Regions from separate parts of the Homo sapiens genome. Here all the other regions are linked to region 3. The links come from fine-mapping of genetic effects on gene expression. A gene starts in region 3. Each other region holds a variant in brackets. All regions are shown on one strand. Distances are between the middles of the regions.

Region 1 (8,230 bases), 100 kb before region 3:
CCATAACTAGGAACTGTTCCCTTCGGACTAGAGAAGCAGGTAAACGGGCCCCAGAAAGTCCCAAAAGCCTACAGTTGTTAAAGCTTTACTATTTAAATTTTTCAAGGCTGGACCTCCAACCTATTCTGGCTGCATCAAAAAAGCAGCTCTATAATAGTAGGCTGTCATGAGAAGAAAGAAAAGAATAATGCAATTTAAAGTATCATCTATTAAAGCAACACAACCATGACATAAGCCATCACACTGACTGAGAAATTTTGAGAGATGTTTTGTTTGTTTTGTAAAATAATTATTAATATGCTGAGGTAACTACTTCCAAGACAGTGAGGTTATCCCTTTAATAAAAAAAAAAAAAAAAAAAAAAAAACTAAAAAAATCCCATCCGGAAATTAAACATATCATAACGAAATTTTGGAAAAACGAAACAAAACAATAGAAATCACTAATTGCATTCACAAAGGAAAACAAAAAAATCTACTTCCTGATTGATTTCAAACATATAGCTGGTAAATACTGCAGCATGAATATGTAATCCTAACAGTTAAACAAATAACTTCATAAAATGAATGGGACTAGTAAAAGTATATTCCTAGTAAATCTAGATCAGTGCTGTCCAATAGAGACATAATACAAGCCACGCATGTAATTTAAATTTTTCTACTAGCCGCATTTTTAAAAGGCAAAAAGAAACAGGTGAAATTGATTTTAATAATGTATTTCATTTAACCCATTATATCTAAAATGTCATTGTAACATACAATTGGAAAAAAGTGTAAGATATTTTACATTGCTTTATTCATATGAACTCTTGAAAATCAGAGGATTGGCCAGGTGCAGTGGCTCACACCTGTAATCCCAGCACTTTGGGAGGCCGAGGTGGGTGGATCACTTGAGGTGAGGAGCTCGAGACCAGCCTGGCCAACACGGTGAAACCCCATTTCTACTAAAAATACAAAAAATGGGCTGGGCATGGTAGTGCACGCCTGTAATCCCAGTTACACAGGAGGCTGGGACAGGAGAATTGCTTGAACCTGGGAGGTGGAGGTTGCAGTGAACCAAGGTTGTGCCATTGCACTCCAGTCTGGGTGACAGAGCGAGACTTCCTCTTAAAAAAAAAAAAAGAAAAAGAAAGAAATGAAAATCAGAGGATTTTATACTTACAGCATGCCTTAATTTTGACTAACCACATATCAAGTCCTCAGTAGCCACATGTGGCTAGTGACTGCTACTTTTGACAAGGCTGATCTAGATGGGTGCTTTCCATTTATTTATTTTAAGTCCATTTATTTATTATAAGTCCAAATCTTAAAAAAAAAAAAGAAAAAAGAAACCTGGCTGGGCTTGGTGGCTCACGCCTGTAATCCCAGCACTTTGGGAGGCCGAGGTGGGCAGATCACGAGGTCAGGAGATCGAGACCATCCTGGCTAACACAGTGAAACCCCTTCTCTACTAAAAATTACAAAAAATTAGCTGGGCATGGTGGCGGGTGCCTGTAGTCCCAGCTACTCGGGAGGCTGAGGAAGGAGAATGGTGCGAACCCAGGAGGCAGAGCTTGCAGTGAGCCAAGATCATGCCACTGCACTCCAGCCTGGGTGACAGAGTGAGACGCTGTCTCAAAAAAAAAAAAAAAAAAAAAAAAAAAAAAGAATCCCAAGGGCAATCTCTTAAATCGACACCTTCAGAGAATATGCTGAAGACTGTTTCAATTTGAAAGTTTCCTTCTCTTCACCAAGGGACTCTCAAATGCAATGACCTACAGATGGCTTCCACTCACCTCATGTAGCACCTTAAAGATTGTGGGCTCCTGAGAAGTGACTGTTAATGGGAATGGGAGGCGTCCTAAGCTCTCTGTACCTCTAGTAATCAGTATGGAGAAGAGATCTTTTTTAATTTATTGTTTTCATTTTAGATACAGGGGGTATTATGGGTATACTGTGTGATGCTGAGGTTTGGGCTTCTAATGATCTCACTGCCCAAGTAGTGAGCACAGTACCTGACAGGTAGTTTTTCAACCCTTACTCCTCTCCCTCTCTTGCCTCTTTTGGAAACTCCAGTGTCTACTGTTCCCATCTTTGTGAGCATATATCCCCAATGTTCAGCTCCCACTTATAACAGAAAACATGCAGTATTTTGTTTTCTGTTCCTGTGTTAATCTGCTTAGGATAATGGCCCCAGCTAAACCCACACTGTTGCAAAGGACATGATTTTGTTCTTTTTTATGGCTGCATAATATTCCATGGTGTATATGTACTACATTTTCTTTATCCAATCTACCTTTGATGGGCACCTGAATTGATTTCATGTCTTTGTTATTGTGAATAGCGCTGCAATGAACATAAAAGCACATGTATCTTTTTGTAAGAACAATTTATTTTCCTTCGGGTATATGCTCAGTAATAGGATTTCTGTGTGGAATGGTAATTCTATTTTTAATTCTTTGAGAAATCTCCAAACGGCTTTCCACAGGGGCTGAACTAATTTGCATTCCCACCAAGAGTGTATAAGCATTCCCTTTTCTCCACAGCTTTGCCAACATCTGTTATTTTTTTAACTTCTTAATAATAGCCATTCTGACTGGTGTGAGATAGTATCACATTGTGGTTTTGACTTGCATCTCAGAAAGGAGATATTTTCATTGTGTTCTAGTGTATTAACTTCACCTCCCTAGAAAATATCTTCAACTCCCTACCATGACGATAAAATCAATGCCTTCCAAATGAAAGTATGTCCTCATCTTCTTCTCCTGAAGTCCACAGCTCAGTCCTATGATCTACTGCTGTCAGTTTTAGGGTCTCCCAAAGCAGAAAATTTCAGTGGAGTAGTTCCCCATCTCCAATACATCACCCAGTCTTTGCATGTCTCCTTATAAAAAAATTGCATTGAGTCTCCCCATCCTTACTTTGGCTTCTCCAACCCCAATTCCTTGTATTGTCACATGTAGATTAAGATTTAAGAACTTATCCCCCCACCCACCACCCAGCCTATCCACACATACATGTACATAGGTATATGTACGTACACACACACACACACACAGGCACATAGATACCCAATTATGCTTGCTCATAGCCTATTCGCGCTTTCTCAAATAGTGCCTTCATCACCGACATAACAATGGTCCTACCTGTTCATGTGCCCACAAATCTGTTTCCATTGGACTCTGAGCCTCTGCTAATGCAGATTTCATCACCAGGCTGCCCAGTTCAAAACAAATGTCCCACAAAGCCCTGTCAGGTGACATGAGGCCCCTACAGATCCTACCTTTCCCTTGGAGTCAACACTCACAAAGTAGCACTTAACTCTCCACTCTTGGTCCACCTGTCCAACTATACTAGTTTTCTCTCTCTCTCTCTACTAATGACAACTACAACTTATTCTGCTCCTGTATACTTTTAGGGGCTAGGAAATGCCTCAGAATATTCACTGTTTCTTTGCTGCCACCATGAATCCCTACCTTCCTTGAGGGGTTTTTCACAGTTGGAACAAATAATACTTATAAAAAATCAACTGAATTCTGTGGAAAAAAATACTACATGAATCCAAATATATTTTTATTGAAGTGACTTCAGATAGCTTTTTTAAAAACTAGGTTAAGATCTCCAAACCTCCATCACCCATTCAACGGAATGTGTGAGGGAAGGCTGGAGGCAGAGGGGGAGGAGAGGAGAAAAAAGAATGGGGAGGGAGCCTTGGCTTCTAAAAAGTTGACTGCTTTGTTAGCCATCTAAAATAGCTCTGCGCTTCTGGCGTTCCCCTGTAGGTTTGAAGGGCCAACAGATCATGTACAATGTGAATTTGCAGACTCTGCCAAGGGAATCCTGCTCTCAGCTAACACCGTGGGGATGAATTAGTGCTGCTGGGAGGAGGAATGAGGAAAGAGCAGCTGACAGCGGGGTGATGGCTTTAGTTGGCCAGCAGCCTCTAATGCGGAACGATGTGCTGCTGAATCCAGACCTGCTCATTAAGCTCCAGAGAGAACAATGAGGAAAGCCAGCTCTTCAGAGAGACAGGGAGAGAGAGGAGCCCGCTGTGCTTTATTAACTCTTCCAAGTGCCTACTTGGAATTCTCTCTTAGGCTGAC[A/G]TCTTTGAACAAAAAGCAACAAAAGTTGTTTGTATTTTCCAAAAAAAAAAAAAAGCCTTTGCTCACTTCCCCAGGAAACACAAGAACAAGACTGAGCCACTTTAAGTAAAAGAAAAATACTTAATGAGTAACTACTATGCACCAGACACTGTGTAAAAAGCTTTAGGGCTGTTAGGTAGATAATGCCTAACAAAAAACTAAGAACTGGGATTAAGGAGGTTAGTAGAAACCAGAAAACAAAGATGGGTATAAGACAGATGTCCTCCTAAGCTATTTGTTAGAGAAAAGTGCACTAAACGAATAACAGAAGTATCAAGTGGAATTGACGTGGGATGACACAGCTGCAAACTCCACCCAACTGGGAGCAGCCAGGAGGTGATCCTGGACTTAACACACAAAGTTCTTTCTTTCAATAAATGGCCTTTGTGTACTCCCCAGTTCTGTTCTTTTCATCATGAGTGTTTTTTTTTTCTGCCTTAGAAAATTTGAAATTATTATGTATTCAACTCTGTCAACCTTTCCCTTTTACTGCTTCTCTTTTCATTCATATGCATAAAAAAAGTCACCTCAATACCAGATAACAAATCACTTAATACCTAGAAGGATAAGCCTTCAGAACTTGCCAAGTAAAAGCAGAGATTAATATACAGTAAGGTAAATGTCTATGTAAGATGAATAACTGAAATTCAAATAGGTGGATCAAACTGGTGCTAGAGAAGTTCAGAAGAGGAACTGGAACACACCCTGAAACGGTTTGATTTATGTGTGTGCTGAGTGAACGGGGTGGCTAATGGACAAAGACACTTTGGAGAATAGTAAATAGATGCACTTGGAGTATTTGGAGATGAAAGTAAAGAGATAAGAGTGGGAACAATAATTGAGGCCAGAATGCAAAATGGCTTGAAGGTGAAGTTAAAATATGTCACCATATTTTACATATTTTGTATTTTACATATTTTGTATTTTACACAAATTTAAAAAGTAATGACTCTTGTAGAAATGGTAACCGAGAAAGGAAACAGATCAAGGATACCTTTAAAGAAATCTATGGCCAGGAGCGATGGCTCACACCTGTAATCCCAACAATTTGGGAGGCCGAGGCAGGTGGATCACTTGAGGTCAGGAGTTCGAGACCAGCCTGGCCAACATGGTGAAACGCTGTCTCCACTAAAAATAAGAAAAATTGGCTGGGCATGGTAGCACACACCTGTAATCTTAGCTACTCGGGAGGCTGAGGTACGAGGATTGCTTGGGCCCAGGAGGCAGAGGTTACAGTGAGATAGTGCCACTGCACTCCAGTCTAGGTGACAGAGAGACTCTGTGTCAAAAAAGAGAGAGAGAAGAAATCTAGATAACCCACAGCAAACCGAGAGTTTGCTATCCAGTAAACACATACACGCAGCACCCAAGGAAATGCAACCCACCCCAGCTAAGACTGGCCTGTACAGAAGGTAAGGGAGTCAACCACCTGCTTACCTCCTTCTGCTTTTTAATGATGACAGAAAATTCTGTGTACGGGATCCGTGGATTTAGCTCACATCCCATTAAAGTGGCTCCTTCATAATCCTTGATATAGCCAACATATTTGGTTTTAGGTATTTTAATTTCTTTGGAGAAACCCTGAAAAGCAAGTAAATTCATTCATATGAACACCATACACCAAATATCTACTGAGTGCTAACTATGTTCCAGGCACTGTGTGAGGAATCAAGACAAGCTTCTTTGAAGTTCTCATTGTACTATTCTGAAGAGGATTAGCTTAAAACCACCCATGAAGTTCAAAAACACCAGAAATCTAACTGTGTAAATAGGAAGCAAGACAACATTTTTTAAATGGCCCTAATAAAATGCAAGAAATATTAAAAAGTTTAAAACAGAAACAGGTGTTAAGTAAAAATTAGGTTTAATTTTGTACTGAATTACATAATTAAATATGACCGTTGCAAATTTCTCCAAAAGTGGTGAGGGGGTCCCCAGGATTCTCAGCAAATCAATAACTAACATTGATCTAAATTATCAAAGAAAAGATGGTCAAAAAAATAAAGTGATTAGAAACTTAATGTTTCTGAGGAAATGAAATCCTTTCTTTGCAGGCAAAAAAATTCCAGACAGTCACAATGTGTGGTTGTTTCAATGACATTAATGCTTTGGAATATACTCATTTACACACTTTAAGCCATAATAACAGACTGCTTCAGAGTATATATTCAAAATTATAAATAATATATTTATAATATAAACATAATTTGCCTTAAGTATCTATTTCAGTTATTTGCAGAAAATTTCTTGAACTTCAGCACCATCGCCAGCAGTTCACTGCCTCATCTTTCAACAAAAACTTATTTTCCAAGTAATTATTGCCATCATCCTCAAAGAGGACTACAGACAAGTCATTTAAGAACCATAGCTGAGATCTTATGCTTTGCACTACAGTTACAGCTGAGGAAAGCTGATGCTCAAGACCTCAGTGAAACAATCCAATTAAGTTCTCAGTGAGTTTTACCATAAAAGTTAAAATGCATCTCAAACAATGAGAAGATAATAAATAGGAGATTATTTATCTGTCTTCAGAGCACAAAAAGCTTTCTAATTACATAAGAACACATTTTTAAAAAAAAAGAAGTCTGGCTGGGTGCAGTGGCTCATGCCTATAATCTCAGCACTTTGGGAGACTGAGGCAGGAGGATCACTTGAGTCCAAGAGTTCAAGACCAGCCCAGGCAACATAGCAAGATTCTCTCCCAACCCCTCACCATCTCTACAAATGATTAAAAAAAAAAAATTGCTGGGCATGGTGGCATGCACCTGAGGTCACAATTACACAGGTAGCTGAGGCAGGAGGATCGCCTGAGCCCAGGAGGTTGAGGCTGCAGTGAGCTATGATCATGCCACAGCACTCCAGCCTTGGTGACAGTGTAAGACCCTGTCTCAAAACAAACAAACAAACAAAATCCAAACCAAAACAAGTCAATAGATTTTATGTAATAACATCTTTAACATTCTGAAGATTTAAAGAAAAAGCCATAAGCAATGTTGAAACAAATATTATCCAAGGTTAATATAGTTATATACTAATAGTTCTCACAAATCAATGTACAACTAAACATTTTTATAGAAAAAGGGACAAAAGAAAATGAATTAGCAATCCAAAAAAGGAACAAATACAAAGAATTGATAAACATGGAAAAATAAATCAAACTTCACATAAATAAATTCAAACATACACAATTTATTATCTGGAAAAGTGGTAAATTTTTTTTCAGTTACCAACTCCTTTCCTGACCCCCTTATACACTGCTGACAAAAATGGAAATTTTTAAAATATTTAGCAACACATTACAAAAACCTTGATTTATTCTAAGCAAATTACCATCAATGAGGGCAAAACATGTACACAAACACACACCCATACACATGCACATTACCTACAAGAAACACCTAGTCAAAAATGTATTGGTTAAATATTTTCTATTTCTACAACAAAATCCTAGGAAACCACCAAAATTATTATATACACAGTATGAACCAACTTTTATGTTTATATACACACAGAAAAAATACTAAAAAGATTTATGTCAAAGCATTAACAGCATAGGTATGAGCTGAGAGGAAAAATAACAGAAAAAATTTTAAAATAAAAAAATCAAAGCATTAACAGTAAATTTCTTGGGGTGACAGAATTACAAGCCATTTTTCTTTCCTTCTTTTGCTTTATTACATTTTCTACAATGATTACACATTACTTTTATAGTCAGAAAAGTAAATGAAAATGTTTAGGAATTATAAATCACTATTAAAAATAATATGCAGTCAAAGAATAGTCCTCAAAAAGCTGAGCTGAAAACTTATTTTAAGACTTATTTAAAGAGAGACAAGTTCTCACTATGTTGCCCAGGCTGTTTCAAACTCCTGAGCACAGCAATCCTCCTGCCCTGGCCTCCCAAAGTACTAGGATTACAGGCATAAGCCACTGCACCTGGCCTGAGCTGAAAACTTCTGATAAGAAACTGCTAGGACAGAGGCCTGGTGAGGTGGCTCACGCCTATAATCCCAGCACTTAGGGAGGCCGAGGTGGGTGGATTGCTTGAGTCCAGGAGCTCGAGACCAGCCTGGGTAACACGACAAAACCCTGTCTCTACTAAAAATACAA
Region 2 (4,911 bases), 81 kb before region 3:
ATGCTAGTCAACTTCAAGCTACCAACATATGGAACAACCAGCTCACAAAACTCCTGAAAATTTAACAATTTTCTTGTGCATTCCAGTACAAGCCAGCTCTAGTACACTACTAAATATTAATATATCCAAAATATTTTCAAACATGTGACTGCATCCTGATGTAGTTTGAATGTGTGACCCCTCCAAATCTCATGCTGAAATGCAATCTCCAATGTTGGAGGTGGGGCCTAGTGGGAAGTGTTGGATCATCAGGGCAGACCCCTCATGAATGGCCTAGCACCATCCCCTTGTTGATGAATGAGTTATTGCTCAGTTAGTTCATATGAGATTTGGTGGTTTAAAGGGGTCTGGCTCCTCCTCCTCACTCTCTTGTTCCCTCTCTCACCATGTGATGTGCCTGCTCCCACTTCACCCTGCACCATGAGTATAAGTTCCCTGAGGCCTCCCCAGAAGCTGAGCAGATGCTGATGCCATTCTTGTACAGTCTGTGGAACTGTGAGCCAATTAAAGCTCTTTTTTAAAAAAATAAATTACCCAGTCTCAGGTATTTCTTTGTAGCAATGCAATAGACTAGTACAAATCCCCATTTTATAGCTGAAAAAAACCTAAACTCAGCTAATCTGTAATGTTACTAAATCCCTAAAAAACTATAGTCTTAAGCCCTCACAGACTGGACATCTAGGAGGAAATGGAAAGATCAATTTTAGGAAGAGATTTTTCTATTACAACATTCTGGTTCTCTGAAGTATCCTCAATGTCATAAAATAAATATTTAAAGAAACATGACAAATTGAAAATTAACACTGTAATATAATCTCCAAGCCATTTCTTCATTTCCTGGAAGCTGTCAGAAATGTCTTAAGACAGGTATGTCTTAAGAAATGTCATTGCCTTGCATGCCCTCAGATGCAAGGCAATGAGATGACAGCAGCATTTTTACCAAAAATGCCTTACTTGAATCTAATCCTTAGTAAACAATCAACAAATCCAAAAAGAGGGACCTTATACAAAACTAGCGACCAAGACTCTTCACCAATGGCAGTGCTGCAAAAGACCAAAACAAGGCTGGGGAGTTGTTTTAAAGGAGACTAAACAAATGAAGAGATAAGAATTAAATGCAATGCACAATCCCTAACTGATCCTTCAACAACAACAAAGGTTATAACTGACATCATCTGGCTATATGGGAAATTTAAATACGGTTTTATATTAGGCCAGAGGTCAGCAAACTTTTCAGTGAAAAGCCAGATAATAAATATTTCATACTTTGCAAGCCACACATTCCCTGTCTCAATTATTCAAATTTACTGTTGTAATGCAAAGACAGCTGCAAACAATATGTTTCAATAAAACTTTATTTGAAAAAAACAGCCAGTGGAGCAGATTTGGCTTGCAGGCTGTAATTCACCAACCCTGTATTAGAAAATATTGTAACCAGGCTAAATTTTCTAAGAGTAATGACTGCATTGTGGTTATGTAAGAGAATAGCTTCCTTATGAGATACAGTACATGCAAAAATAGTTAGGGGTGAAGTATTATGACATGTGTTTTTAATTCTGAAATGGTTCCAAATGGTTCATGGGGAGTGGGGAGAGAAAGAAAAAGAGCATATGGGGAGGCGCAGAGAGAAAGAGAGGTAGCAAATGTGGCATAATGTTAACTGCTGAATCTCAGTAAAGAGTCTATGGATTTTTATTACAGAATTTCTGCAACATTTATGAGGGCTTGAAATTTTTCAAGATAAAAAGCTGGGAATGATGCCTTCAACTGTGAGATTATTAGTAAGTGGACCTGTGATGTGATATTCATCAAGGGGAATTACCTCTTGATCAGTTGTTCCTGCCCTCTCCACACTGACCACCAGGTTAAATGCAAACCAGGGTAGCATAACATGTTAACTCTCAGCATTAGCATCCCCACTTCTGACAGCTGGAGTGGCCAGGAGAGCAGAAGAGGTCTACCAGCTGGCTGCCCAGGTTTACCCTGCTGACCTCTGGTCCAAGCATTGCTGCAGGGTCCGTGATGGTAGACATAACCTCGTTGATTAATTCCATCGGAATATCCCCCATAACTCGGGGTTTCTTGGCCTCCTCCAGAACATGAGAATCAGTCATTTTCCTCTTTTCTCCTATGATGATCAAAATAAAAGGCAAACAATGGGTGGTTCTAAACACAAAACAAATAATACACGCCAACTAATTTTCTAACAGCATTGATGGGCATGGAGGTCAACTCTATCTTTACCACCAGGGGAAGGGGTGACAAAGGAAGACAGGAAAGAGAGCCATTGTGAGCTCACAATAACTGCCAACCCAATTCATTGTGAATATTTTCTACTTTCTATGATGATTTTTAACTAGATACATGAAATATTAAGGCACATGTTCCTTCATCTGCAAATGCAAAGGGGTGATTCTAGCTATTGTTTGTTAGTACTCTCTAATATAGTCTCTTCAAGGTCAGAGAACATGGTCCATATGACACCAAAACGTCAAAATGGATTGAAATTTTTACCTTATGACCTAAAATAAGACCAATCTTTTGTAAATGT[G/A]CAGTGTCTTCTTGGAAAGAATGTGTATTTTCATATTTTGATCTCTATAACTCCATTAGCTTCAGCTTACAGATCATGTTGTATGGATATCAGTAAGAGCCTTACTGATATTTTTGTCTGTTTGACCTATGAATTACTCAGTTGTTTGTTTAAAGCCTCAACCGTTGGTTGATTTGATTATTTCTCCTTGTAGTCATGTTAATTCCACCCCGCCCCCACCGGCACCCCACCATATATGTACGGAAATCAGTTTGCATTAGGCTTTGGGCTTTATTGGTTAGTTATTGCTATGTAATAAACCAACCCCAAATGAGTCTTAAACCATAATAACTTACTATCATAGCTCATTCATTTCGTATGTTTCCTGATGGGTGGCTGATTTCAGCTCATCTCATTCAATCTTGGCAGGCTTGTTCATGAGTCTACCCACTGATTGGAATCTCTGTGCTGGGCTTGGCTATACACACACACACACACACACACACACACACACACACACACACACACACACATATGCATATGTGTATGTATGCATATATATTATGTATATATAGCTATATATTTGAAATATACCATAAATTATTTTTAATAAACAAATTTATGGATTTAATTTTCTATTATAAAATGACACACTTTATCTTTTACAATGCTTTTTTGCCCTAAAATGATGCCTCACAAAGTGAGCAGGACCACTAGCCTATCAAGTAGATGCAATCTCACCATTCCACACAATAGGAGAGCCATGCAAAGGCAGAGAGAACTTTCTTCCGCTTTCCTCATGAGATTGCATGGTAGTTTTTTTCTCCTTTCTATTCTCATGTTTGGTTTTTCCAGTTTTTTCCAGACATAACATGTATTTATTTTTACAAGTAAATTTTTTGAATTTTTAAGATGTCTAGATCTAATTTATTTCCTCACATGTGAATCCCACTGCTATCTCAATATAACATTCTCCACATAGCATTCTCACTATCTCTAGTTGAAAAGGAGCAGAACAGTATAAAGTAACTTGACTGTAGACGATTCTTCCAGAAGTATTACATATTATTTACTAAATCACTTTTGTCGAGTTCTTTTTTTTACAATTTTTTGTTGTTTGTTTTTGGAGACAAGTAACAATATTTTCAGACATCTGACCAATAAGTCCTCAAATTCCATGATTCCCTAAGAGTAATGCTGAAAACTATTTATTTCGTAGCTGGGGTTTGTACTTGATATGCCCTCTGCTTGTTAGACTGCTAATGGTGTTTATGATTTTTTTTAAAAAGTCTGAGGCTGAATCCAAGCTCACTGGTAAAGAGTTTCTGCATGAATTAGTGATATCTCCCTTGGAAGTGAAAGGGAATGGTGGCATATGCTAAATATATGGCACTTCTTATATTATAAGGTCCTCTTCTTTCCCTCTTTCATGGTACTTCTTTTATTTAAAAATTTGGTCACATCCAAGATTTGTCTGACGTCAAGTCTGTGGACAGAAATGCAACCTTCAAAACATTCTCTAACTGTGAAATGCTTCTAGGCTCAAGAGATATTTTTGCCCATGTGGTAGATTACATTAATGGCCAAATTCTTTACCCTCCTGGTATCTACACTCTTTGCTATGTGACTTTGCAGTTATTCCTACGAAAGGAATAGACTACCTTTTTCCACTTCTCCACCTCTCAACTCTGAGTTCAACTACGTGACTTGCTTTGGACGACAGAATGAGGCAGAAGTCAGCAGGGTATGGTGGCTCACACCTATAATCCCAGCACTTTGGGAGGCCGAGACAGGTAGATTACCTGAGGTCAGGAGTTTGAGACCAGCCTGACCAATATGGCAAAAACCCATCTCCACCAAAAATACAAAAATTAGCAGGGCATGATGGTGGGCACCTGTAATCCCAGCTACTCAGGAGACTGAGGCAGGAGAGTCACTTAAACCCAGGAGGCAGAGGTTGCAGTGAGCTGAGATCACACCACTGCACTCCAGCCAGGGTGACAGTGTGAGACTCTGTCTCAAATAAAAAGAAAAGAAAAGGAAAAAAAAAAAGAATGTGGCAGAAGTGATGGTTTACAAGTTCCAAGCCTAGGCTTCAAGAGACTGTGTATTTCTTCCTGCCCTCTCTCATCACAAGAAGGACATGTTCCGGGTAGCCCAATAGTCCCAGGAAAATTATGAGAAATATGTGAAGCAGAGTTGCTTCAGCTTAAGTGCTCTAGCCAAGCCAAGCCCAAAACAGAGATTATAATCAATGGGTAACTTGCAACCAAGCCCAGCCAAGATTGAGTGAGACTAGCTGAAATCAGCCAACTCTCAGGCAACACACCAAATGAGTGAGCTATGACAATAAGTTATTACAGTTTTAAGATAGCAATAAC
Region 3 (8,230 bases):
TAAATAAATAAATAAATAAATAAATAAATAAATAAATAAATAGGCCAGGTGCAGTGGCTCACACCTGTAATCCCAGCGCTTTGGGAGGTGGAGGCAGGCAGATTGCTTGAGCCCAGGAGTTGGAAACCAGCCTGGCAAACATGGCGAAACCCCATCTCTACCAAAAAAAATACAAAAATTAGCCAAGTATGGTGGTGCATGCCTGTGGTCTCAGCTACTCAGGAGGCTAAGGTGGAAGGATCACTTGAGCCTGGGAGGTACAGGTTGCAGTGAGCCAAGATCACGCCACTGTACTCCTGCCAGGGTGACAGAGCGAGACCCTGTCTCAAAAAAATAAATAAATAAATAACCCAATCCTATCAATATCTGTGGGACACCTAGAACTGTCCTATATGACAAATCTCTACTTAGTTGTCAAGAAGTGATTAAGTTAAAATTCCACAACTGCTAACATCACAGCTAATCATTTCTTCCATTTTCTCTTCTCTGGTTCATTCGCTTAGTCAATAACCGCATGGCTAAGAATCTATTCAAAGATTCTAAATGCACATCAAATAATCATACAAATCATAAAAATCATAATATAAGCACCAGGAAGAGTACAGATGAATTTGGATAATTTCTAATGGGAAGGCTGCTCAGGGGGGTAAAGGAAAGGCAAGGAATCTGAGTTCTATAGGAAGGGTTGGGAGTTAATTTTAAAATGTGGAAAGAAGAGCTTCCAGTCCCAGTGAACAGCATGTGCAAAGCCCCTCACCCCACCTCACCCCCGACTAGGTGAAAGGAAACCATGTGCCTGAACCCTCGATAAGGAGCCACAGATAGCAGTAGCCAGGCCATGCAGGGCCTTGTGGACCACAATAAAGAGAAATTAAAGGGCCTGAAGTGTGGGTATAACATGGTCAGATCTACTTTATTTTATTTATTTATTTATTTTTTTTTTTAGGGAGAATCTTGCTCTGTCACCCAGGCTGGAGTACAGCGGTGCAATCACAGCTCACTGCAACCTCTGCCACCACGCCTGGTTAATTTTTTATTTTTTGTAGAGACGAAGTCTCACTATATTGCCCAGGATGGCCTCAAATTCCTGGACTCAAGTGATCCTCCCGCCTCGGCCTCCCAAAGTGCTGGGATTACAGGTCTGAGCCACTGCGCCTGGCCTAGATCTACATTTTTAATGAACACAGAACCAAAATGACTCTGAAGCAACCTTTACCAGGACACAGTTCAAAGATCTGGATCCTGCGAAACAAGTTTGTTTGTTTCTTTTCTTTTTTCTTTTTTTTTTTTCTTTTTCTATTCTCTGGGGTGTGGCACGTCACCCTGGCTGACTTAGCTCCCTTCTTTTTTGGTTTCGTTTGTGAAGTTTAAAGGCCAGATTTATATCAGGCCTGGGACCTGTTTTTCTTTCAAAAGCCCCCCAGTGAACTACCTTATCTCTTTCTAGATCCCTCCTCATTCTCTAATCTCTCTAATCTAACTTGCCAAGGGGCCTGTGGCAAAGGTAGAGCAATCTGTCCTTTTGGGCTTGCTCATATTAAGTGCAGAAACAAGCTGAGAGAGAACCACAGATTTTGCTCTCTTACACTCCCTCGTACCCAATCAAGTCCAGTTAAATTTTTTTTTTTTTTAAAAAAAGCAAATCTGAGATAATGTCACTCTCCAGGTTAAGATTCCTGCACTCCTCAGTGCCCTCTTGGCCACGCACCCCAGCCGGTGGCCCTAGGCAACAAAGGTCTGGCTCAGTTGGCCCACCTCCAAGCTTCCACAACTGCTTTCAGTTTCTCCACTACAAGAAGCTTCACCCCACCCCACTCTGCCCTGCCAAGAGTTCTTAGCAGCCACTGACACTTCCTCCAGGAAGCCAATCCCACCCTACCAGTGCCCCAGTCTATGAACTGTCCTGCTCTGGGTCCGCAACTACTCCAAGAAAGTAGTTTTTCTGAACTTCTCTGTAATTTTGGTTCACTGCCCTCATCCCTAGGCCCCCAACACATGCATACACACACATGCACTTGTGCACACACACAATAAGTAACTCCTGAAGGACAAATTCTGTGTGTCATAGGCCCAGCACCTAGCCCAATGCCTGACACCCAGTTGGTAACCCTCTAAATATTTACTGAATGAATGGATACATAAAAATGAACACTTTCAGCCAGGCATGGTGGCCCATGCCTATAATCTCAGCACTTTGGGAAGCAAGGCGGGCAAATTGCTTGGGCTCAGGAGTTTGAGAACAGCCTGGGCAACAAGGTGAAACCCTATCTCTACAAAGAATACAAATAATAATAATAATAGTGTACTGGCGCATGCCTGTAGTCCCAGCTACTCAAGAGGCTGATGTAGGAGGATCACCTGAGCCCAGGGAGGTTGAGTCTGCAGTGAGCTACGATCATGCCACTGCACTCCAGCCTACGTGGCAGAGTGAGACCCTGTCTCAAAAAAAAAAAAAGACGTTAAAATAAATTTTCTCTTTCTCTTGTTGGGTCATGAAAGTGACCAGGAAACACTCAAATCCCACTTGGAAGTGGTGCTACATCTCACCCATGGAAATTTGAAAAGATCAAAAATATCAATGCAGGCCACATATGCTCATGGTTTTAGACAAAACCAAAACTTCAGGAAAGTTTTCAGATATTAAAGCTACAGCAGGCAGCAGGAAGTCTTTAAGAGGTGCTGGTGATGAGAACCCAATAAATAAATTTTAAAATAAAGCCAGAACAGAAACACTGAGTTGAGACAGTTCCTGCATGAGCCCACTTTGGCTGCGAAACGCCAAGGCCACCAAGTAATTGACCTTGCTCTTTTTTTTCATAGGTTTTTGTGGAACAGGTGGTGTTTGATTACATAAGTTCTTTAATGGTGATTTGTGAGATTTTGGTGTAGTCATCACCCAAGCAGTATGCCCTGTACCCATGACCTTGTTCTTAATTCTGTACATAGCTCGCCCTTCTGCCTACTACAGTCGGTGTCCTGTTCTCATTCGTCTAATGCCCTTCATGATCAACTCCTGGGCTTGCACCTTTCTTAGAAGCACACTCCCCACTTCATCTTTTTTGCATTCCTTCTTCAGAAATAACCACATAGCATTATTATTTGTTTCTGTCTTTTCTGCTAAAATCAAAGGGGACAAATAATATATTGTCCAGGTCTGAATTGGAATGTGGTCTGTGGACTAGCATAGCATCACTTGGGAGTTTGTCAGAAATGCAAACTCTCAGCTTCCACCTCAGACCACCTGATTCATAATCAGCATTTTAACCAGCTTCCCCAGGAGATTCCCATGCACATTAAAGTTTGAGGAGCACTGGGCTAGATCCTACATTCACTCAACAAATATTTATTGAACCAGTGTAGGATACAGAGGTGCTTAACATAAACCTGAGCATATGGTGTGGAAAAAGAGCAAGCATAGACATTCCATTGTGACTGAGAAGCTCCTGCAAGTACCAAGAAGAGTATAACCTAGATGTTCTAGTAGAATAAATTATAGTTATGTCAAAATTCAGAAGTGGTCACTGCAGCTTGGTTGTGACAATCGGGAATCTGGAATCTGGGAACTTGACCCTCTTTACAGCAGGCAGGAAGAATACAGGGAGGTGTGAGTGTGTGTGAGTGTGTCTCTTCCCTGCCTCAGCCACAGGCCGCAGGAGCTGACAAGGCCAAGTCCCCGCCCCCCTCAGCTGTCACCCTGTCAAAACAAAGCCGCTGCTGACAGCGCAGGGCCAGCCTGCCCCGCGGCCTCGGGCAATCCTCCCACCTCGGGAACACAGCCTCCACATCTGGATCTGCAGCTGGAGGTGACAGGGTGCCTAAACTGGCATGGAGAGTGGGTAGCAAGAAATGGGTGTCCTCAAACTGAGCAGTAGCGCCCGCCGCGCTGGGCTGTCACTTTGCCAAATCCTGTTTACACCTCGAGCAGCTGGGACAGCGTTTTAACTAAACAAGTAATAATACAATAATGACAGGGCTGTCACCGCGCGCGGCAGTGCCTCCGCCCCCAGCCGAGGGCGCCAGGCACCACAAGACCCTCGCCTCGGACTCTGCCCACCTTCCCACCCCGCGCTTTCCTCCCCTTCGCTTTCCCAAAGCGCCAGGAGTCCGGGAGTCTTCTCCACCCCCACTCCTTGCACCCAGTTCCTCCCAGTGGGACACAGGAAGGGATCGATTGCAGAAGGGACCACTCAGTCCCCCAAAAGATTTTTCCTTGCCCCTGGGTCACCCGCCACATGGAGAGCACCGCTCCACTCCCGGGAAAGTGACTCCAGCGAGCTCCTACAGAGCAACAAAACCCCAAGGTAGCCCGGGAGCTCGGATGCCGAAGCTACTCCTTTCAAGCGGAAGGAATGAAGGGCTCTCCGTCTTAGTGATCCCCCTTCTTCAAACCCAGCAGGACTCTTATCCAAGAAGAAGCTAATTGGGCGCGGGCGACAAGAGCACTTCCGCGGTGCAGCGGCCCCAGGCGGGAGGCGAGAGGCAGGAGGCGGGAGGCGGAGGTGGAAGCGGGAGGGGGAGGGGGGTCCCGCGGGCTGGGCCCCTAGCACCCATCCGCGGTCCGAGAGCGGCGAGCGCGTACCTTGCAGGCGGAGTACACTCCGAGTTTCTCCAGTTTCTTGGCCCGCGGAGCGGAGCGTAGTTGCGCTTTCTTCACGGCGATTCGGGCCGAGCCACCGCCTCCCGGTCCTTCGGCCGTGCCCGCTGCAGCCACTGCCGTCGCCGGACCGCAGGCGCCCGAGCCCCCGGCGGCAGCGGCGCAGGGGGAGCCCTGCGGGGGCGCGGGCGGAAGCGCCGCAGGCTGCGGGGGCAGCGCCCCGGGCCCGGCCCCTGCCCCGGCTCCTGCCCCGCAGCCGCCCGGCCCGGCCCCGCCAGCCTCGGACATGCCGCCCCGGAGCACGGCAGGAGGCGCCGAGTGTCAGGCGCCGCCGCCGCCGCCAGGGTCTCCCTCTCGGGCTCTGGTAGTCGGGAGAGCGAGACCCTCCCCCCACGCCCTCCCGCCCCCTTCGCCCACCCCCCTCCCCGCCCCCGCCCTCCCCCTAGCGCGCCGCTCGCCCGGCTCGCTCTGGCCGGGCCCCGCGCGCTGATGGTGGTGGCGGCGGCGGCAGCGGCGGCAGCTGCTCCCCCAGGAGGGAGGGGACTAGCGGCTCCGCTGCCGCTGCCGCCGCCGCCACAGCACACGCCCTCCCTTGGTTCTCCTGCCCGGGACTCTGCTCCGCGCCCTGGCTGCGGACATGTTCCTCGGGACTGCGGACTAGGTGTGCGTGCCGGCGGCTGCCAGCCTCACGGTGTCTGCCAGCGCTGGGAGGCCCCCCACGGCCTCTTTTCCGCTGCCCGCGGGGTTTGCACCCCCCACCCCAGTGCTTCGACACCTACCGCTCGCCCGCCAGGGGGCGAGGCCAATCCCTGGGTGTGGGTGAGGGTGGGGACGAGGGTGGGGGTAGGGGCCTGGAGCCCAGGCACCTGCTGGCCACCTCCCCCCTCCGCGGCCCCCCATCCGACCCCCGCACGCCTGCACCAGTGGGAGGGGGCAGCCTCTCAATCATTTGTCCTTTCACTCTCTTCCACCCTGTCTCTGACAGAGAGACAACTTCCTCCACCCTAGCGGGAGCCAGAGGAAAAAAAATATATTTTTGAAAAGTACCCGTCCATGCTAATCTTTTTCTTTGTTGCTAATTCACCAAAATAAAGACGTGATGTTCTCCCTTTCTCTTTTTAAATACTTTCTGTCAAACTATTTTTTAATATAATTAACACTTTCTTCCCATAGCAATTTCTGGGTCAAATCTGCCGGAGGAGGGGAAAAAAACTTACTATTCTCTGTAATTTTTGTTTGAAAGTGCTGGTTGCTAAAAGAAAGATTGTCTAAAAAGCATTGTCAAAAACTATGCAGTGGAAAAAGTTTGAATACAAAAAGTTTGTTAACAGGATTCGTTTCTGGGTGGTGGTTCTATAACGTTACGTAGTTTTCAAAATTGTGCCACCGCGTGCGTATTAACCAGGAAAAAGATATAAGCATAATTCAAAAGAATAAATATCGATTTTGGCCTCAAACTTTAAAAAGAAAAAAAAAACCCTCAACTCAGTGTTTCCAACTCTTGTTGAAAACTGTTGTTTTCACTGTTGATGACTGTGGAGCATACAAGTCAGTGCTGCGTTTGAAAGTGGTGTACCGTTGATCGCCTTCTTAAGCAGGTTTTAAAAGCCCAGGGCTTTTTCTCAGGACCCTTCAGAAGTGCCCTACTTTTTGTTATATGCAATGTGGGTCATAATGTGCTTATTATCAGATTTTATGCATGCTGTATAGCTCTCAGGCCAGACGCTTTAAGGGGTGTGCTTTTCGTGGGAAACATTCCCCTTCTTCTTTTTCCAGATTCTCTGTGTTATTTTGACTTGTAATGCAGGTTAATATATAAACATTGGGAGGTGGGGGAGTTTGTAGATCTAAACAGTGATATTAGCTTAGACAGGGCAAAAGGCAATATTCTCTCCCAACTTGAGTCCAGTCTTGAGGGGATGAAATGGCAGATTCTTATCAGGTTCCATTCAGGACAATTAATTTCAGTGCTTCCTTTCTTAGCTTGACGTGCTTCACGTTACCAGTGTTACTCTCTCCTGGCTCTGCTGAGATGTTTCGCAGATTTTTGCCATTCTCCGCAAAGCAGGGTGAGAGTCTTAAAGGCTGTGCTTCTCTGATCAACCTCTAACATGGATTTAACAGATACTAATAAGAGCTTGGGTTCCACCTTGCAGGCATTTGTCAAACTGATGGAATGATCCACTTGAGATCTGTACATTTCACTGGATATAAATGTTGCCTCAAAAATTTTTAAAAAAAGAAAAATCACAAGCATTGAACTCTAATGGTGCTCTTTGTACTTTGAGATACATCAAAAATAAGATGTATGGATGCCTCCATGCATGGGTAAAGGGTGGATGAACAGAGATATGATAAAGCAAATAGGGGTCCATATAATAGAGTCTAGGTAATGGGCACAGTGCGCAATTCTTTCAACTTTTCTGTATGTTTGAAAATTTTCACAGTGACAATTGGGGGAGGGAACCCAGATTTAACATTAAGTCACCTATCAACTCCTCCTCCCAAGCGTCCCTCAGAATTCAGGAGGCAGACAATTTCCAGGATGTTTTGAAGCAGAAGTAGCCAATCTCCTTTCAATCCACTCTGAAAACCATCACTGTCTGAGTGGCGAATGGCTTGTGCCATTAACTGAACATTATTTTTCATTATTTCCCTGCTCAGAGTACCCAGATGACATACTGCCTTAGGCTGAAGGCCCGTGGTTTCAAGACCTATTCAAAGTGTGTTATGAGCACCAGGCAAGGAAATTTCAAGGGCAAAGGATTCAGGAGGCTTATTGCTTTTCCATAATTAGGTTGTTGTAAGCATTCAGTGTGCTCTTTCTGTGCACACAGTACTTTTAAGAAATAACTACCAAGAAAATAAAAGGCAATGTTTTCATTTACAAAGTATTTACCACTTACTGAGGTAAAGAAGCTACATTCAGAAAATAAAAGCTTGGAGAGTGGGCATGGTAGAGGCAGGCTGACCACTGGAGGTTACTTGTGGTATATTCACACAACAGAATATTTTATACCTGTTATACACAATGACCTTTATAAAAATATAATAACATAGATCTCTAAGAAACACTGTTGAATAAATCTCAGTGCAGCATAATACCATTTATGTTAAAAACAAACTCACATTGACATATAAGCACAATTTTGTATATGTTCAATAAATGCATGGGAAATTCAAAAGTAAGGGAAAGATTTAAAAAGGTACATAGCAATAAAATAAAATTTCAACTTCAGAACACGAGATTATATAACAAGAAGTTGATAAGGTCCACCCCTTCCCATTCTCCCTGGTGCTGCAGTATACTTCAGCCAAACTCAGGAAATGCTTTCCTACCTCAGGGCCTTTGCATTTGCTGTACTATGTGGATACCCTCCACCAAACAGCATGGCTAACCCTATTCATCTGGTATTCCTTGCTCAGAGATGCCTTCCTAAAAAAGGCAAGTTTTGTGGCCATCTATTGTTATATCATCTAGCAGAGTTTCTTGCCATATTCCTTCCTACCAAGGCTATACAGCTTCTGTAATGTACCAGTAACCCTGAATCCCACAGATGGATTGAAATTATCCCCAGTAAAGGCACAGACTGTAAGGGTACAGATCAAGTGGTCAAAGTGCAGGTTTGGCCCAGT
Region 4 (8,230 bases), 38 kb before region 3:
GCTACCTCTTGCTGGCCCTGTTTCTGCCAACAAGCCCATCATTCATTCCTTTAGTGTCCTTTACCTTCCACACATTACCAGCCACCAGACTCCACTGAGCTTCCTCATTCTCTCTCAGAGACACTGCATTTCCCCATCCTACCTTTCTTCCATTGGAATGTCAAACCTACTATAATAAAATAGCCCCCTAGACTGTTCTCTCTGCTGCCAGGGTAGTCTTCCTAAAATACCACTTTCCTTAAACAACCCCATCTCTACCAGATCCAGAGACTACTCCTGGCTCTTTGGGGATGCTGACCAGAATTAGACTTGTTTAACTTATCTCTAGATTTACCAGTCTCCTAATTAATCCCAACCCATGTCAACACCCAGGTGAACCTCACTCTAACTGCAAAGCTAAACTATTTACTATACTGACAATCAATTCATATTAAACCAAAAAGAGTCATTCATTATTAAAAGAAACCCTTCTCTTAACCTTTTATTAAGAAGACTTTTTGATGCAAATAGGCTCCCTTCAATTATCTAAAAGTATGTTTTCTTAAAGAGATAGGCCTCTATTATTTATGAGTCTAGGAGCATATTATTAAAAACTAAAAAATAAAATAAAAATCTATAAACTACAATGCACAAATCTATAGCAGTCAACCTGCCACAAAACTCAAGATATGAAGTCGCTGCTATGTAAAACTTTGATGTATCGCTCCCTAATTTAACCTCCCTCATCAAGATGTGCATCAATGTACACTGTATCAGTAGTGAGAGACTATTCCTTTTTCCTGTGCTCTGCCTACAGTGGAGAACCATCCTCGGTAATTTAACCAATCTTTTGAAAATTAATAAGCACCCCCTACTGTTTTGATCTGCATTCAACGGAAGGCCCAGGGAGTTGTTTGTTTTTCATACTACTGGCTGTTTGTATTTGATCTCCTGTGTACCTGCCAATTTGAGTTCCTTTGCTTGGTTTTTAAGATGTTAGTCTTTTTCTTACCACCTTGAATAAACCTTATGTACTACCTTTAGTCTGCCATACTCATTGCAAATGCTTACGTATTTGGTGGGGAGGGATTTTTGGTTTATTTGGTTTGGTTGTAGAAAAATGTTAATCTTTTTAGAAAGCCATATCTACGTTGGCAGTTCTTTAAGGTTTTGCTTGCAAAGGTTTTTCCTACATAAACAAAAAATAACAAAAAATGTATTTTTCCTAGCTCTTTAAAGAGTTTGTTTTTAAAATTTAAAACATTCCTCCATCAAAATGTCAATGTTATAAAAGTCAACAAATAAAATAAAATGCTGAGGAACTCCAGATTAAAGAAAACTAAAGAGACATGACAACTAAACAGATATGTGATTCTTGAGTGGAGGCTTAATGGAAAGGAAAATATGTTATAAAGAACATTTTTGGGTCAACAGATAAAATTAGAATACAAACAGTAGATTAGATAAAGGTATTATATTAATGTTAAATTTACTAAAGTTGGTAATTGAACTGAGGTTATTAAGAGAAAACCGTGGCCGGGTGCAGTGGCTCAAGCCTGTAATCCCAACACTCTGGGAGGCTGAGGAGGGCGGATCATTTGAGGTCAGTAGTTCGAGACCAGCCTGGCCAACATGATGAAACCCCATCTCTACTAAAAATAAAAAAATTAGCTGGGCATGGTGGCAGGCATCTGTAATCCCAGCTACTTGGGAGGCTGAGGCATGAGAATCATTTGAACCCAGGAGGTGGAGGCTGCAGTAAGCCAAGACTGCACCATTGCACTCCAGCCTGAGCAACAGAGTGGGTCTCCATTTCAAAAAAAGAAAACCTTATTATTAGGAACTGTATATTGAAATATTTAGGGGAGGAAGGGCTATGATATATAAGTAACTTATTCTCATATAGTTCCAGAAAAACAAATTTATACGTAGAGACTCATATATATATATATATGAGACTCTCTATATACATTTATACATATATATATATGAGCCAATGACAGCAAATAAAATAAAATGTTACTAATAGGTAAATCTAGGGAAAGGATTTATGGGATATTCTTCGTTATTATTCTCATGACTTTTATGTAAATTTTTAATTATTTGCAAATTAAAAGTGTTTTTACAATCTTTCCTCCACCTGAATTTGATCATTAAAGAATCCTGCTTTTACTTTAAATAGTCTTCCAAGAGCCTGATACAAAGCATTGATATACACTAATTACCCAAGATTGACCAACCCTTGAGCTGTGGCAAAGTTTATTCCTTTTGGTGGGCCACAGTTCCCCCAGTGTCCACTTTGTGTGAAGGGCACAAGAAAGCAGACAGAAGGTGCAAGTGAGGGGACGAGGGGAGGCTTTGCCTTCTTTAGATCACTCCAGAAGGGTATACCTTGGCACCTCTCAGTGCTGTGTCAGACTTGCAAACACCCAGGGTGCCAGAGAGTGACCCGCCGTGTGACTGCTGCCAAGAATCACGGTGCAGCTGTCAACCTTGCTGAGAACAGGAAGCACACTGTCACTGTGTGCCGTGACCCTCACTAACCTCTGGCTCCGTGTATCATTGGCCTGCACTTCTCGTGAAGACAGTCAGCCAGTCCTCACATGCCCTGCAGTGTGAACAGGCAGCAGCTGGGCAGGCAGCTAACATGTCCCTGCTCCTCTGGACCAGAAGCAAATAACACAATAGGATTTGAAGGCTGCTCAAATACATTTTTTGTTCATGGGAATTTGGCATCGAGGCTAGAAGAGGTAAAATTAATGACTACAATGAAATCTGTCAAATTGACTAATGTGCAAAAGGCTTATCATTTAAAAGTGGTTTCATTTTCTGTAATCTCAGATCTGGAATGAAAAAAAAGAGAAGCCTAAGAGTAAGAGCCCATTAGATGAGAGCAGTCCAGTAGAAATATAATGCAAGCCACATATGTAAATTTAAGTATTCCAGTAGCTGTGTTTAAAAAGACAAAAGAAGCAGGTGAAATTCATTAAATAATATATTTTATTTAACCTAATATATACCAAAGTATTATTCTTTCAATACGTATGCAATATTAAAAGTTACTATTTACATTCCTCTTCTTGTACTAAGTCTTCAAAACCTGTGTGCATTTCACGCTTACAGCACAATTCAAACTAGTGAAATTGCAAGTGTTCAATAGCCACACATGGCTAGTGGCTACTGTGTTGGACACAGCAGGTATAGATTATAAACTTTGAAAGCTCCTCTGCAAATATATGCAACCAGCCCTCATTTTACCATTATTGAATTCAATGACTATTTACCAACAAAAGAATAAGCACAATTATGCACAACGAACTAAATATATTACAAACTAGAGAAAAAGTCAACTCTTAATCACAGTTCAGTACAGATTGGTATATAATTATAGTTATATAAGAAGGAACATTGCCACAGAGCTCTAAGAAGGCCTTTATTCTCTCTACAGAGTTCTGCAGTCAAGCCTTGGAGGATAAGCAGAATTCCCTGGCAGAAAATGAAGGAAAGGCATTGAAGGTGGTGTGAGCTTCCAGATCTAAGGCAGAGGTGGGAGAAAGTTCAAAGAACCTTTGGAGAACATGGAGCAGCCTGATGGCCAAAATGCAATGAAGATAATTGGAGAAAAGCTTTGAAAATAAAGAGGCCTCAATGAACTGAACCTGCTTGCTCAACTACAGATCACCCTTCACTCTGAGGATAATGAGAAGCTCAGAGGGGTTAAGCAGGAGAATGGGATCACATTGTATCATCACTTTATGGGAAAGCCAGGTATGCAGGAATGGAAATAAGAACTCCAGAAGCTGCAGCAGACACAGGCAAGGAATAATGAGGAAAAGCCTAAATTCAGCCAGTGCTAGAGGCAGGAACTTGAAGGGAGTATCAAACAGGATTTCATGACCAGAGGACGTCAGGGAGACATAACTTATACCAAATGAGCAGAGAAAATATTACCAGTATTATCCCCTTAACTCCTGCTGTGCCCGACCCACAGCTCCTGAAAACTCTGAAACCGGCATCTGAAAGGCTGCATTAGCCAGCAGTGGACATCCAGCCAAGAGGAATATGCTGGCTCAATTCAGGAGGCTGTGTCATTGTGCTAGCTGGGCCCCATGTTTACGTCCTTTGGCATCTGCACAGTACATGTATAAATGGGAACTGAGGGGGCAATTATATGGTACAAGTCTATGCAAATGTCGTATGATCAAAGAAAATGTGTTGAGTCAAATGATCTGCCTAAATGATTTAAATACTTGAAATATCCATGAGAAAAATACTGGTATTTTCTTCATAATACTCAAGAAGTAAGCTCTAGTGTGATTGTTAAAGCTAACTCTTGACCTTCCTTAAAAATCTCTGGGAGTCTCAGGCCAGAAGCGGTGGCTCACGCCTGTAATCCCAGCATTTGGGGAGGCTGAAGCGGGCAGATTACCTGAGGTCAGGAGTTTGAGACCAGCTTGGTCAACATGATAAAACCCGTCTCTACTAAAAACACAAAAATTAGCCGGGCATGGTGGTGGGTGCCTGTAATCCCAGCTACTTGGGAGGCTGAAGCAGGAGAATAGCTTGAACCTGGGAGGCAGAAGTTGCAGTGAGCCGAGATTGCACCATTGCACTCCAGCCTGGGTGACAGAGCCAGACTCTGTGGCAAAAAAAAAAAAAAAAAAA[AG/G]AGGCCAGGTGTGGTGGCTCATGCCTGTAATCCCAGCACTTTGAGAGGCCGAGGCGGGTGGATCACCTGAGATCAGGAGTTTGAGACCAGCGTGGCTAACTTGGCAAAATCCACTCTCTACTAAAAAATAATAATAATAATAATTATAAAAATTAGCTGGGTGTGGTGGTATAAGCCTGTAATCCCAGCTACCTGGGAAGCTGAGGCAGGAGAATTGCTTGAACCTGGGAGGCGGAAGTTGCAGTGAGCTGAGATCGTGGAGATCGCGCCACTGCACTCCATCCTGGGCAACAGAGTGAGACTCCTTCTCAAAAAAAAAAAAAAAGCTCTGGGAGTCTCTTTGAATCAATTCTGGTTGTAGGGTGAGGGGTCTGCCTAACTCAAAATTTTAAAAGTTAACAGAAAAGAAATTCCCTACTGTAAACAAGCAGAAAAGCAAGGAATCTATAGTGACAAAAAACAGTCAGTTCCCACTGCTGAATGTGTACATATATATATACATATATATACACATATATCAGAAAAAGATGATGAAGGGTGCGGTAGCTGTAATCCCAGCACTTCGGGAGGCCGAGGTGGGCAGATCGCTTGACCTCAGGAGTTTGAGACCAGCCCAGGCAATATAACAAAATCCGTCTCTACCAAAGATACAAAAAAAAAAAATTAGCTGGGCATGTTGCTGCATGTCTGTGGTCCCAGCTACTCGAGAGGCTGAAGTGAAAGGATCGCTTGAGCCCAAGAGGGGGAGGTTGCAGTAAGCTGAGATCGCACCACTGCACATCAGCCTGGACAGAAGAGAAAGAAAAAGGTGACAACACTGAAAAATAATCAAAAAACCTCTAAACTAAAATATTATTACTAGACAAATTTAATAATCAGTCTATTCTGAAACAGTTCAGAACAATGGACTCCAAAATAACAATAGAAATTCCAATTATGTTTTGATCACAAGGATTTGTTTCCTACTTTCCTGCTCGTAAAAACAGGCTGCCTTTTTATTTATTTATTTATTTATTTATTTTTGAGACAGGGCCTCACTCTGCCACCCAGGCTGGAGTGCAAGTGGTGCGATCTCGGCCCACTGAAACCTCTGCCTCCCAGGCTCAGGCCATCCTCCCTCCCACCTTAGTCTCCCGAGTAGCTGGGACTAAAAGGCACATGCCACCACACCAGCTGATTTTTGTATTTTTTGTAGAGGTGGAGTTTCGCCATGTTGCCCAAGATGGTCTCGAATTCCTGGGCTCAAACAATCCACCTGCCTCAGCCTCCCAAAATGCTAGGATTACAGGTGTGAGCCACCATGCAAGACCCAAGCTGCTTTTTAAATAGCAGTCCCAAAATAAGAAAAATCTTTATTAATACTAAAATAAGGAGAAATGCTGGGACCAACTAAAGCACTTTGTTAGATCCCTTTGTCAAATTTTTGTAAACTGAATATTATTGTGCCAATCCCAAATATAATTTCAGAGAATGAACTAGAATATTCTAAACCAGCACAATTCAATAGAAATACAATGTGATTTTTAAATTTTCCAGTAGAAATAATTTTAATAATACATTAACCCAACATATTCAAAATATTATCATTTCAACATATAATCAATATAAAATATAATTACTGAGACATTCTGCATTGTTTTTGCTTATGATGTCTTCAAAAACTGTGTGTATTTTACACTTACAGTATATCTCAATTCAGAGTAAACACATTTCATGTGGCCAGTGGCTACCGTATTGTACAGCATAGGTCTAGACCAACCATTTCATTCTGTGGATGGAGATACTAAACAGCAAAAAGGTTAAGGAACTTGGTAAACTGCAGGGCCAAGCTAGAATTCTTTTCTTGGTTTTGTTTTGTTAGAGGTGGGGTTTTGCTCTGTCTCCCAGGCTACACACACAGTGGCCCCATCACAGCTCACTTTGGCCTCAAACTCCTGGGCTCAAAGGATCCTCCCATCTCAGCGACCTGAGTAGCTGCCATTACAGGCACAAACCACCATACCCAGACAGGCTAGAATTATTACTTCCTAGTTCCCAACTGAATGTTCTTTCTACTTGATCAGACTATCTCACTCCTGTGTTTTATGTCCATGAAACACAGAACAGTATTAAATTATGGTAGACCAAAGATGTCTGGGATGAAAGAAATTGTCAGGAGACTACACAAAACCACAGCTCCAAAGAACATATATGGCTGAGGCAAAAGAAACCCAACATTTAATCAATAGAATTGATACTATCTCAATCAATAAGCCAGTATGTTTTGTTCTGACAAATTCAAGAATATTTCATTTCGTGTGTACAATTACTGGTGAGTAAATCAACCATGCTCAGAATGGTGACTACTGTATGTGAAAACAGAACAACAATGTATACCAACTGAAATGTATTTGAGAATTCAGGCTTGCGTAATTCCTAACAGAATTCCCTAGACCCCAACTTGTACTTTGTCGGTAACAATTAAGAAGATATCTGCATGAATAAGATAAGAAAAAATGTAGGAAACTTGCTAAAATACTCTGGCAAATAAAAGCAGGGGGTTAGATACAACAAAATTGGCAAATGTAAATAATCATTAGAGCTGGGTGCTGAGTCCAAGGCAGTTCATTCAACTATCCCTTCTGCCTTTACGGGTGTTTGAAACTTTCCATTAAGAAAAAAAGTTTTTCAAAAAGCACGGAAAGGAGGGAGGAAGGAAGAGTAATCTCAGAAAAAGGTTTTCTAGAGCTGTTATACTAAGACCAATAAATAAACACTGGCATTCCAACAATAATTCCAAGACCACTTGAAAATGTGCAGTAATTTCAGTTTTAAGAAAGCAGACTAAAGAATAGAGAAGAAACAAGGAAGAAAGGAAGGAGTAGGGGGAAATATTTTTTAAATACCTATACCCCCCGTACCCTGAGAAAATCAGTCAGCAACTCAATATACATCCTTCCAGACCTTTTCCTGATCATATATATTAAAATACATGTTTGTGGTATAGTATGAAATATACTTGGTCTTTGTCCCAGTTCCTGTCACAAGCTCTTAAAACCCTTGGGATTTCCTGAGCAGGAGGAGTATCTTTTATTGTTCATCATGAGCCCCTTTCGATCATACCTGAGTTTATGCTAATGAGGTGACTTAAGATAGTGCACAGATAACCCAGGATGAAGCTGCTCACCAGAGAGACCAGGTTATTAGAAGATTAAAGGATTGGAACCTTCAACCCCACCCATCAATCTACAAGAAAGGTAAGGGAGGGAAAGTGTAGAGATAAAGCCGTATGAAAAAAATTTTTTTTTTTTTTTTTGAGATGGGAGTCTCGCTCTGTCGCCCAGGCTGCAGTGGTGAGATCTCGGCTCACTGCAGCCTCTGCTCCCAGGTTTAATCGATTCTCATGCCTCAGTCTCCCAAGTAGCTGGGATTACAGGCTCAAGCTTCCAGGTTGCTGAACATGTGGAGGTGCCTGGGGGGTCGTGCACCTGGAGAGGGCAAGGAAGCTTCACTCCCCTTCCCCAAACCTTGCAATGTGCATCCCTTCATCTGGCTGTCTGTGTATCCTTTATATTAAACCAGTAAACTGAAGTGTTTCCTTGAGTT

What was found. PIP is the estimated chance that this variant, and not a neighbour inherited with it, causes the effect.
Region 1: its variant is the best candidate, but not a certain one, in a credible set for the expression of KAT2B in blood mononuclear cells (TOPMed, PIP 0.51).
Region 2: its variant is the best candidate, but not a certain one, in a credible set for the expression of KAT2B in blood mononuclear cells (TOPMed, PIP 0.78).
Region 4: its variant is the best candidate, but not a certain one, in a credible set for the expression of KAT2B in lymphoblastoid cells (TwinsUK, PIP 0.67).

Annotation. Positions count from the first base shown.
Region 1 is chr3:20,137,692-20,145,921 of GRCh38, reverse strand. KAT2B (lysine acetyltransferase 2B) reads right to left here. Exons shown (of 18, transcript NM_003884.5): 13 at 5,558-5,701. Among named protein-coding and RNA genes, the nearest start is that of MIR3135A, 4.2 kb to the right of the region's middle. RefSeq lists a silencer at 4,579-4,779. The variant A/G (reference allele first, on the strand shown) is at 4,082.
Region 2 is chr3:20,119,885-20,124,795 of GRCh38, reverse strand. It overlaps KAT2B (lysine acetyltransferase 2B), which reads right to left. Exons shown (of 18, transcript NM_003884.5): 9 at 1,992-2,128. Among named protein-coding and RNA genes, the nearest start is that of MIR3135A, 15 kb to the left of the region's middle. The variant G/A (reference allele first, on the strand shown) is at 2,552.
Region 3 is chr3:20,037,130-20,045,359 of GRCh38, reverse strand. It overlaps KAT2B (lysine acetyltransferase 2B), which reads right to left and starts at 4,914. Exons shown (of 18, transcript NM_003884.5): 1 at 4,580-4,914. The coding sequence starts at 4,882. RefSeq lists enhancers at 1,642-1,801, 1,882-2,051, 3,413-3,602, 4,319-5,289 and silencers at 4,453-4,512, 4,713-4,842, 5,013-5,652.
Region 4 is chr3:20,075,618-20,083,847 of GRCh38, reverse strand. The region is part of intron 2 of KAT2B (lysine acetyltransferase 2B); the gene reads right to left. Among named protein-coding and RNA genes, the nearest start is that of KAT2B, 39 kb to the right of the region's middle. The variant AG/G (reference allele first, on the strand shown) is at 4,645.